3 linked regions of the Homo sapiens genome follow. The protein of the gene in region 3 purifies or fractionates together with the protein of the main gene of each other region. This does not show direct contact. Each region holds a gene or a part of one and is shown on either strand. Other genes may lie near its edges. The genes, in order: NPAS1, PSMA8 and NHSL2.

Region 1 (3,748 bases), on a different chromosome or scaffold from region 3:
AGCCTGGGTGACAGAGCGAGAAGACTGTGTCTCAAAAATAATTAATTAATTAATTAATGGCACAAGTGTACCTCTCATGGCTGGCATAGCACCTGCCCAGGCTGCACAGCCAGGAAGTGCTGTCAGGAGACAGGAGCCCATGATCTGAGCTTGATTCCTTGCCCTGAAACTCTAGCAAGTCTCTCTGGGGATAAATAAGGATCTGTTGTCTGAGAGGCCACTATCACCAGGCTATATCACTTCCCCATGTCTCGGTTTCCCTAGTTGTAAAATGCATCTAGTAACAGAGCCCATCTCAGAATCTTGCTATAAAATAAAGTATTAGCAAAAAACAAGCACTCCCTTAAGTGTTAACTATGAGGATCATGAATGAGTTTGTGTGTTGTGAGCAAATGCACACGGGTGTTTGTGTGTGCCTCAGTTTCCCCATCTGCCCAACCAAAGGCCAGCGCGTGCTCCCTGCAAGCCCCTGACTGTATGCCTCTTCTAAGACTCCCTGCTCCATTTTCTTTTTCTTTTCTTTTCTTTCGAAATGGACTCTCCTTCTCTGACCCGGGCTGGAGCGCAGTGGCGGGATCTCGGCTCACTGCAACCTCCGCCTCCCAGGTTCAAGGGATTTTCCTGCCTCAGCCTCCCGAGTAGCTGGGATTACAGGCGCCCACCACCACACCCGGCTAATTTTTGTATTTTTAGTAGAGACAGGGTTTCACTATGTTGGCCAGGCTGGCCTTGAACTCCTGACCTCGGGTGATCCAACCGCCCTGGCCTCCCAAGGTGCTGGGATTATAGGTGTAAGCCACCGCGCCCGGCCCCAGCTCCATTTTCTTTCCCCATGTTAAGGTCATGTAGAGGCTTTTAAGTGCCTGGAGACCCCCATGCCAGGGAGGACCCTGAGAACGGGAAGTGGGGGCTGCATGGAGAGAAGGAGCTAGGGGAACTGTAGGACCTCCTATCAGACTGGGGAAGGCCTGGCTTGGACGCCTGGGTTCCCGTCCTCTGTGCGAGGTACTACAACCCCTGAGTTCCCATTTATGATCTAATGGGGAGCTTGGATGTAAGGGTTCCCGTCCCTGCGGCGGGGGATGGAGATAAGACGCCAGGATCCTGGTCTCTGGAGCTCCTTAGAGAGCTGGATCCTGGTCCCTGACGAGGGAGGTGTATGTCCCCCTTTTAAGGCGGGTTGGGTTTGGATGCGAAGTCCCAGCCCTGTGGGGGGAGAGTGTGCTGACACTCAGGAGTTCTCTCCCGGAAAGGGAGGGTCTCGAATTCTGGATTTGTGTCCCTGGAGGAAGCACTGACGTGAGTCTTCACTCGTACATGGGGCTCGGCTGCAGGGTACCTGTCTTGTCCCGAGGGGCTGCTGGGGCACTAACTGCCTCCTGAAGGGGTGTAGACAGTGCCCGGACTCCGCTGTTCCCCTTTTGGAGTGGGGTAGCTCCGATCCGAGGTGCTACATTCTGACCCCCGACGTTACCGTGGGGCAAGGGAACTCGGACCCCAGGGTAGCTTGGCCCCCTACCAGGGAAAGGCGAGCAGGGCGGGTCCGGGGGCGGAGACGCGGCGGGCGGGGCTCCGGCAGACCCCGCCCCCGCCCGCAGCGCTGGTCGCGCGTCTCCAAGTCTGCGAGGCCGAGGTGGGCGCCGAGAGCTGGGCGCCACAGCCCGCGCGTCCCGCTGCGCCCCGCGCGCCCCGGGGTCTATGGAGCTGCCCCTCCGCGCCGCCCGGCCGGCCCCACGCCGCGCCCGGAGCCTGCTCTGCGGCCAAGTAATCGGACTGGCGGTCCTGCGGGTAGGGGAAGCTTGCGGGCTGGCAGGAGGGGGACTTCTGGGTCCCAGAGGAATGGGGGGCTGGAACTCCAGTGTCCTGGGGGATAGGGGGTGGGACGAGGGTATCCCGAGCCTGGGGGAAGGGGCGCACGGATGTTTGAGTCCTGGAGAAATCTGGGGTTGGGAGACCTGGACACGGGGGTCTGGGGCATCTGGACACCTGGCTGGGAGGTTTGGGGGCGGCCTGGTTCCTGGGGTTAGGGGGTGTTCTGAACGCCTGGTCCTGGAGGAATGAAGACCTAACTGAAAACGTTAGGGGATCAGGAGACCAGGACACCTGGGCCCCGAGTGTCGGGTCAATCCTGGGGGCGTCCTGGGGCAGAGGCTGCGGCGGCTGCGTCCGGGGCTGGGGCTCGCGCGCCGGGGTCTTCAGGGAGGAAGTTGTGGTCGTGGGGATGTGGCGGTCCGAACACGTGGCGCCATCCCGAGAGGCTGGGGGGATCCCTGGGCAGGACACAGGATGGGGGTCCCTGCCCTCTGCCCCCTGCCTCCTTAGCCCAGCCGGGAAAACAGGGTGCAGATCCGGGGAGTCAGACACCGGGGATGGGCTTGGGGGGCGGGTCCTCGGGGCAGAGGGCTCCGGGGGCTGGGGCGTGCGTGCCTGGCCCGGGAGGCGCCCGCCCCCCGCCCGGCTTGGGCATGCTTGGCACGCAGCGCGCGGGCCGGTTCGATCCGTATGCGCGCCGCGTGCGCCCATTGGTATGCGGGAGCCGGCCCGGCGCGGGCGTGAGGCGGGCGCGCTGGCGGGCGGCGCGGGGGAGGCGGCGGCGGGGCACGTCCTCACCCGGAGCGCCAGCCCCGGGCCGGCTAGGGTGGGAGCTGAGGCCTCCAGGTAGGGGAAACTGAGGCATCATCCAGGCCCCCCCCCCCCCAGCTCCTTGCTGGGACCCTGAGCCCTGCACGGATCTCAGTTTCCCTAGAAGGTCTCCCGAGGGCACTAAGCGTTGCCCCTGGCCCCCTCCCGCTGCAGGAGACTCGGGGCTCGGAGCCCGCCTGAGCGAGCCCCCCGGAGATGGCGGCCCCCTATCCCGGCAGTGGCGGCGGAAGCGAGGTCAAATGCGTGGGAGGCCGCGGCGCCAGCGTCCCCTGGGACTTTCTACCCGGGCTGATGGTCAAGGCGCCGTCCGGACCGTGGTGAGCAAAGCCCCGCCCCCCTGGCCGCGGGCCCCCCCCCGGGTCCAATTCACACCCGATGTTCTGTCCCCGTGCCAAGGGGCAGTTCACACCCAGCTCCCTGACCCGCCCCTTAGGGCTAGAAGGTCTTACCTTGAGTTAACTACCGTCCTGAGCCCGGTCCCCTGCGTTCTGCTTCTAGTCCCGGTCCTCAGAATTCACGCCCAACATCTTTAATCTCTCGCCCTTCCTCCTCCTTCCCACCAGAATTGACACTCGAGGTTCTGTCCCTGGGTCGGAGTGTAAAATCCACACTCCGGTCTGCTCCCACCTCCAGAGATGTGGAATCCACTCCCAACGTCCCGTCCCGTTCCCAAGGCCCCGGGAGGCGGGGCTCGCCCCCAGTTCCCAAGCCCCTGAGCCCCGGGGCCCCGCCGACACCTCCTCCGCGCCGCCCGCCCAGCCTGCAGGCGCAGCGCAAGGAGAAGTCCCGGAACGCGGCGCGCTCGCGGCGCGGGAAGGAGAACCTGGAGTTCTTCGAGCTGGCCAAGCTTCTCCCGCTGCCCGGCGCCATCTCCAGCCAGCTGGACAAGGCTTCCATCGTGCGCCTCAGCGTCACCTACCTCCGCCTGCGCCGGTTCGCCGCGCTGGGGGCGCCGCCCTGGGGGCTGAGAGCCGCGGGGCCGCCAGCTGGCCTCGGTGAGTGCTCATGCGCGGGGCGAGGGTCCCGGGGCCCTCCAGGCGGAGTCACTGCAGCCCAGATCCGGGCTGCGGGCCTGCCCTCGCCCAGATGCTTGTCTCTGGAGTCA
Region 2 (3,648 bases), on a different chromosome or scaffold from region 3:
CCTGTCCTTCAAGGCCCAGCAACACAGTGCAGAGAGAGATACCATCCATGTGTGGTAAGGAGAGTAACGTGGGTATCTGACTTTTCCATGGACCCCATGGATCCAAGCTCCAGGTCTGCTCCTGTGGACTCAGGTTCCAGGCCCACCCCAGTGAGCCCTGGTACAAGGCTGGCACCTGTGGTGCCAAGCCAGCCTGCCTGCTGACCTAGGCATCACGCCAGCCTGCCAAAGGACTCTAGTGGCAGGCCCACCCCAAATCTCTGGATGGGCTAACTGGTGAAGAACTTTTCCTGCTGAAGCTAATCTGAAGAGGTACTTACTTTTTCAAATGTGCAGACATCCATGCCAGGCCACAAGAATCGTGAACAATCAGAGAAACATGATACTACCAAAGGAAGAAAATAAAGTATGGAGATCTATGAATTTCTTGACAAAGAATTAAAAAGTAACAATCTTTTAAAAGCTCAGTAAGCTACAAGAGTACAGAGATAAACAAGCGAGATCAGGAAAACACTATGCGAACAAATTGAGAAGTTCAACGAACAGACAGAAACCTATGTTAGTCTCTTTTATCTTAATTTTAAGACCATTCCACTTTAATCCCACCTTTTTTCTTTCAAGCCCTTCAAGTCAAATATTGTCATCATCCCTCAGCCCACAACAACCTGGTTTCTATCCCTCTTCTCTCAGAGTTTAGTCAAGGTAATTACAAAGGTCATTAAGGTTCCTCAAGGTTCAGTTGTAGACTATCCTCGGCTTAGTCTATAGTCTATATTTAGTCTTATTGAACACAGAAGGGTACTCAAGAGTATGCATTTACTTGACCTTCAATATAGGTTTTTAACAGGGGAGAGAAACAATGCACTTCAAAATTATTATTTCCAGCCAAAATCAATCTCTTAAATTTCAAACATGTACTTTTCAGCTGCCTCACAGTCTCTGTTCAGGAATCGGGACACAGTTTAGCTAATTCCTCTGGCTCAGGGTCTCTCATAAGGCTGCAATCAAGTTGTCTACCAGTGCTGCATGCATCTCTAGGCTCAACTGGGGAAGGATCCATTTCCAAGCTCACTCGCATTGTTGTTGGCAAGATTCAGTTCCCCTGGGTTGTTGGACTAAGGATCTCAGTTCCCTACTAGATTTTGAACAAATGTTTCCCTCAGTTCCTTGCCTCATTGGGCCCTGCAGAGGGCAACTCAACACGGCAGCTGGGTTTCACCAGAGTAAGCAAGCAAAACAGCGAGTAAGGATGAATAAAATGAAGTCACCATTTCTTTGCAACCTAATCCCTGATGTGACATTCGTCATTTTCACCTATTCCATTCCTTAAAAGCAAGTCACTAAGTTCAGCCCACATCCAAGGGAGGAAGGTTATACAAGGGCATGACCACCACAAGGTGGGGATCACTGGAGGCCATTTTAAAGTCTGTCTGCTACAGTTTCCATAAGCATCTCAACCTCAGCAAGTCCAAAACAGTTATCTTCCCCCAAAACTTAGTGCTTACATTCTCTAAGTAAATGGCAGTACCATTTACTTAGCAGGCACATCCAGAAACAGGGACACCAACTTTTATTCCTCCTTCTTCTATACCTCTGTCAACACCATCCATATAACCATCAAATTGTAACAAGTATACTGCTTAATGTTTTTCTGGAATCCACCTTATTTTTACTTTCCCCCCAAGTCTAGTAAAAGCTAGTTATCATCTTTCATCTAGACTATTTCCACAGAATACTAACTGGTCTCCCTGTTTCTAGTCTTGATTTCATCCAATTCACTGACCATAGGTAGCCTGAGAAATATTTGGAAAATAAAATGAAGACCAAAAAAGAAGAAGAAGAAAATAAAGTCTGAATGTGGCATTCCTTTACTTAAAGCTTATAAAGGGACCATCTGTCACTAAGCAAATCAACACAGCACAGAGCTAGACATGAGACAAAAGGATCTAGGGACTTTAATATGTACTCTTTGCATATTGGCTTTTCACTTTCCTAATGTGGAAAGGCTTTCTCTGTACAGTAAAAACATGGCCACCAGGAACCTTGGACCCACATCCCAACAGTTCTCCCAGAGAATAAAAGCTACCTCTGTCTCTAGTCAGAAGAGTTGCTAAGGGTGAACTTATCATTGGCTAGATTTGAGTGACATGCTCATCACTGTGGCCAGGAAGATAGAAATTATGAATGATTCTACTTAGGTCATGTGAGTATCTCTGTTGTTGGACAAATGTAGTCTGTTAATAGAATGACAGAAGAGCAATAATCTGGAGACTGACAGTAGCCACATCAAAACACTTCAAGGTCTCTCATTCAGTATATCCTCACTTACATGGTTTAATGGCATTCCATGATCTGGCACCAGTTTCTAGCTTCATCTATTTCTATTTTTCCATTGCTTCAACAATTCTGAATGCCTTTCAGTTGACAGAACATAGCTGTCCTTTTCTACTTGCCTTCCCACAAGCTATTTCCTTTGTCAAAAATACTCTTCACTCTTTCCCCTTCCACTTCTTCACTTGACAGCCCCTCATCTTTCAGATGTCCACTTAAGTATTATTTCTTCAGAGGGACCTCCCCAACACCTGGGGTTCCTATAGTGCCTCATACTCTAATACTCATTCGGGTTTTCTTAGGACTATTTATGTAATTATCTAACTTTCCTGATAGATAGTAGGATCTCTAAGGACAGGGATCGAATCTATTTTGTATGTGATGCTATCTATCTTGTATGTGACCTAGCATCATGTTTAGCATATGTAAGTATTCAACAAAAATGTCTTGAAATAATAAATGAATGTGTGAGAAGCACCACAGACAAAATTTAAAAAAAAGAGAAAACAAAGAATAGTAAATAATAACTACAATTTGTTAAGTACTTTCTGTGAACTAGATTCTGTTTAAGATGCTTCACATGCATTATTACCTCATTCAACTTTCACATCAACTCTCTGAAGCAAGTGCAATTTTTTTTTGAGACAGATTCTCACTCTGTCACTCAGGCTGGAGTACACTGGTGCAATCTCAGCTCATGCAACCTCTGCTTCCTCGGTTCAAGCAATTCTCCTGCCTCAGTCTCCCAAGTAGCTGGGAATACAGGCACACACCACCATGCTCAGCTAATTTTTTGTATTTTTAGTAGAGATGGGGCATCACCATGTTGGCCAGGCTGGTCTCAAACTCCTGACCTCCAGTGATCCACTCACCTCAGCCTCCCAAAGTGCTAGCATTACAGGCATCAGCCACCACGCCCAGCCACAAGTGCTATTTTGATGCCTCTTTTACTATTACAGAAACTGAAGCTTAGTGAAGTTAATTGCCTTAAGTGATACATATCTGATTTCTACATTCATGATAATGGAAGCTAATTAATATACAAACATTTATTGAACAAATTTCATGCTACAATGCAAGGAGCAGGGGCTTTAGAACTAGAAAAAAATAATTATAAATATGGGTTCCATCACTCTCCAGCTGGGTACTTTCAGCAAGCTATAAATGCTTCTGAATCACAGTTTCACACATAATAAAAGGGGATTAAACACTGTCCCTAATGTTAGATAATATACACAAAATGCCTGGTTAAAGTATTTCTTAAATGTTAGTTACTGCCTTCCTAGCCCCTCTACTGTATATTGTGCAGTAGAAATA
Region 3 (3,648 bases):
GGATGAGAAGCATTATGTATTATGTTTATGGTTCCAGGAAGAGCCAAAGAACTCAAACCACCCAAGAAAGTGAGCTCCCTTTCCTCCGGAAGGCACAAAAAGAGGCTGCTGGTGGCAACATATTCCGTTGTTTCAGATGGCTCCGAGCCTGCCATGGCACTTGAACTCAGTCTGGTGGGGTACTGGGTCCCATGTAGGGAACTAAATTCACTGCAGCCAATGAAAAGTACTGTACAGTGAGGTGGAGTAGTTCCCAAGACAGGATGCATGCTTGGCTAGGGATGTGGGATGCTGAAGTCCTAGGGTGCTAGAACCTAGTTTGATTTCATTATCTCAGCACTAGAGATTTAGAGGGGAGAGTGGCCTAAACTGGGCCTTGGAGATCTGCCTCGGGCTAGTCTTGATCTCAAGGGCAGTAAGGCCAGCCCGTGGTTCCTATTTAGAGTAACTCAAACCCTCAAAGGGTGCCCGCTACTGACTTGGGATCAGGATAATTATTCTGGGGCATCTGCTTCCATCTCTGGCACTCCATTCTCACCCTCATCTCTCCTGTGACTGAAGGAAAAAGCCAGCAGACAGTTTACTAACCCAGAGGGCTTGCCTCCCTTTCACTGTCAGCCTGAGGAGTTGAAGTCACCCTTTGACCAAGTGATTGCAGGTCATCGCCGGTGGCGGGACACTTGGTGTCTTCCTCCAGGGTGATGATGGGGCTGAGAGGCAGCCTTGGTTCTGCCACATAGGCCTCCATTTGAGCTGTGGGAGAAGTGAGAGGCAGGTACAGCACGCTGGGTTTTTTTGGTACGGGAGGTGGAATCTTGCCTTTCTTTTTCTCAGCTTCTTCCTGGCTCTGGAGGCTAATTCTTTCAGGCAGAACCCTCACCTTGGGGCCCTCGTCCTCTACACTTCCCTGGGGAGGCTGCTGTGTTCCTGAGAAGAAAGCATCAGAGGAACTGGCAAAAGGCGTGAAAACAAGAGATGAGGGTGCTGTTGACTCCCCTGGGCTTCTGCCATCTGGGAAGCTGGAGGGCTTTGGTTTCCGCACTACCGTGTAGCTGTCTTGAGGGAGTGGTCTCGCATGTTGAATTGAGCTCCTGGGGGGCATAGCCAAGGTTGGTGAAGTTAGTGCATACTCCTCAGGAACAGATGGTGGCTTGTGGACCAAGCTTGGAGGCCTCCGGGCCACCGGAGGCTTCTCAGCTACGGGAGGTTTTGTCTTTCTCTCTGGCAAGGTGAAGACTTCTTCTGCTCTGGGTTCCTCGGCATACTCAGGGCTCTCAATATCATCTTCCGGCTCAGACTTGCTGACCGACCTCAGGCGAACAGAACGTAGGTCGGACTGAGTAACCATAGGCATGATTGGCTGGTTGGGATTAGTTTTCTGGGCCAGCTTGACGCCAAAATTTGTCTCTGAGTGGTGCCGACTCACCTTAGTTTTGCTTCGGATGGAGATACTCATCCCAGACAGATCCAGGTTGGGTGAAGAGGTCAGTGGTAGGTCAAATGATAGCCGTGACTTGGGAAATTTCTCCATTGGTGACGTCGGGGGTAGTGATGACTTCCTCTCAGGTACCACTGGACGTACCCGGACACTGCTGCTTGGAGGGGGTAAGTGGCCCAGGGTCAGGGACATGGAAACAGTGGGTGTTGGTGTTTCCGACTGGCTGGAGTAGCCACTGGAGGGTGACATCAGTCCAGGGGGCCTTCCCGGGGATGATATCTCCCTGGCCTCCACTTCAATGGAGAGTTGGGAAGGTGTAGTGGCTCTGGAGGTGGAAGGTGAGGCAAGAGACTCTGAGCTGCCCTGAACTTGGGTGCACTCAATGACTGTGGTGCCAGTGGCAGTGCTGGAGCTGGACAGGGATTGGTAGGTGTCACCAGACTTCCAGTCAGTAAGATACCAGTGGTGGGAGAATTGTGTACTTTCTGGATCTTTGTGGTTTGGAATAGCTGGGTGACCCTGAGCATCTGGGTGGGACGAGTGATGTCCTTGATGTTCCAAGGAGAGGCAAAGGCTCTTGGGCCTCTGGTCCTTGGGTAGTGCTGACCCACCTTCAGGCAAGAGGCCTGGCTCATCTTTGACCAGTGAGACACTGCGTGTGGGTGGGGAAGGCTTCTTTTTGGCCTTCCTAAGTGAGATACTCTTGGACCTCTGCCTTCTGTGCTGGGCCTCTTGCTGGGCACTAAGGGAGGCAATGTTGTCAGCACTGTTACTGCCCTCAGAGCTCGTACTGGCAAAAGGCAGGGCACAGGCCTCATTGGCCTTCTGCTCCTCATCATAGTCCACATCTGTGGTGCCTGAGTCTGTGGGCACAGACAGTGACCGCTCCCGGAATCTGCTGGCCCCACCGGGGCCTGTCTCCAGCCTCGAGGTCCCACTGGTCAGAAGGCCAATCTTGGAGGGTCTTTCGGGCATGTGCCTTTGCTGAATAAGGCGCTCAGGGTAGCCAGCTGACCCACTGCATCCTGCTGGGTTATCACGAGCGACAAGGAGGGTAGCAGCCTCCTTAGGAACCAGAGGTGGGACTTTGTTTAGAGAGACCCAAGAATTCCCACAGGAAGGATTTTTCCCATTTTCATTGACTTGATTGCTCTGGCTGGTGGCACTTGGAGTCATGTAGGTAAAAGCATCTCCCTTCCAGGAAGTGGAGAAGGTTGATTCTGTAGGTCCATTGCAAGAACTGGGGACACTGTACACCATTCCCATGCTCTCCATGCCAGGAGGGTTTGGGCCACTCCGTGCCTGGTGAGGTTCGTCCGGCTCACTGGAAGGAGTTCTCAGTACTGGCGAGGTGAGACTTGGGAACCGAGCATCCTGACCAACTGCAACTCTTCCATGAACCCCTTCTGGAACTGAGTGACTGGGCCTGATGTCGGAGGTGGTAGAGTGGGCCACACTGCCTGCTGGGCTGTTGCTGTGACCTGGAGGAAATAAACACAGGACATGAGTGCTACAGCAAGGGATCTCCCACCAGCTGTTTTGAGACAGGAGCACCAACTTTTTGCCAAGAAGCATTTGCCAACAGCTTGGTCAGAATTCCTTGGTTCTTCCCTTCCATGGATGAAGATGCTGGGGAAATTGGGTCCTTGCCCATCACCCCACAGTGAGACATACGGTGCCCTTGAATGGTCCAGATGGCTGCCAAATACTTTCCAGCTTTGATTATTCCTCTTAGAGCTGAAGTGTCACGTGGGATTACCTTGCATTTTCCCCATACTTTCACCCCAGGCTCATGAAACCATCACAGACCTCAGCATTCATCCATCTAGAGATGAGAGTAGAGGCTTCCGAACTAAGGACGGCATGGTGTGACGTTTGGCTCCAGCAATGACTCTGGAGCATGCCCAAGATGCAAAGCTAAGAGTCTGGTTGCATTGTTCGCACCCATCACTTTTAGGCTTTGCAACATAAGAGGCTGAGGATAATCTACGGATGTGAGGAAACCGTTTGGATGTTCCAAATCCCCAAAGGTTTTCTCATACACACAAACAATTAATACTGTCATGTCATTATTATTATTATTATAACTACTACTGCTATGAGAATTTGTAACAATAGCCACCATTTATTGGACACTGACTATGTACCAGGCACATGGTAGGCAAGTTACATACAATAACGCTAATCTTCATGCTAATTCCACCATGTCA

The links.
Region 1: the proteins of NHSL2 (region 3) and NPAS1 purify together in Homo sapiens (affinity purification with mass spectrometry; one large-scale study listed by BioGRID and IntAct). This does not show direct contact.
Region 2: the proteins of NHSL2 (region 3) and PSMA8 purify together in Homo sapiens (affinity purification with mass spectrometry; one large-scale study listed by BioGRID and IntAct). This does not show direct contact.

The regions. Positions count from the first base shown.
Region 1 is NC_000019.10:47,018,210-47,021,957, forward strand, and holds the start of NPAS1 (neuronal PAS domain-containing protein 1), read left to right. Parts: upstream 1-1,627; 5' UTR 1,628-1,788; intron 1,789-2,796; 5' UTR 2,797-2,838; coding exon 2,839-2,960; intron 2,961-3,402; coding exon 3,403-3,638; intron 3,639-3,748. UniProt on the Homo sapiens protein: May control regulatory pathways relevant to schizophrenia and to psychotic illness. May play a role in late central nervous system development by modulating EPO expression in response to cellular oxygen level.
Region 2 is NC_000018.10:26,136,782-26,140,429, reverse strand, and holds part of PSMA8 (proteasome subunit alpha-type 8), read right to left. Parts: intron 386-3,648; exon of another isoform or gene 345-385; coding exon of another isoform or gene 321-344; intron 1-320. UniProt on the Homo sapiens protein: Component of the spermatoproteasome, a proteasome specifically found in testis that promotes acetylation-dependent degradation of histones, thereby participating actively to the exchange of histones during spermatogenesis.
Region 3 is NC_000023.11:72,137,712-72,141,359, reverse strand, and holds part of NHSL2 (NHS-like protein 2), read right to left. Parts: intron 2,920-3,648; coding exon 589-2,919; coding exon of another isoform or gene 584-588; exon of another isoform or gene 1-583.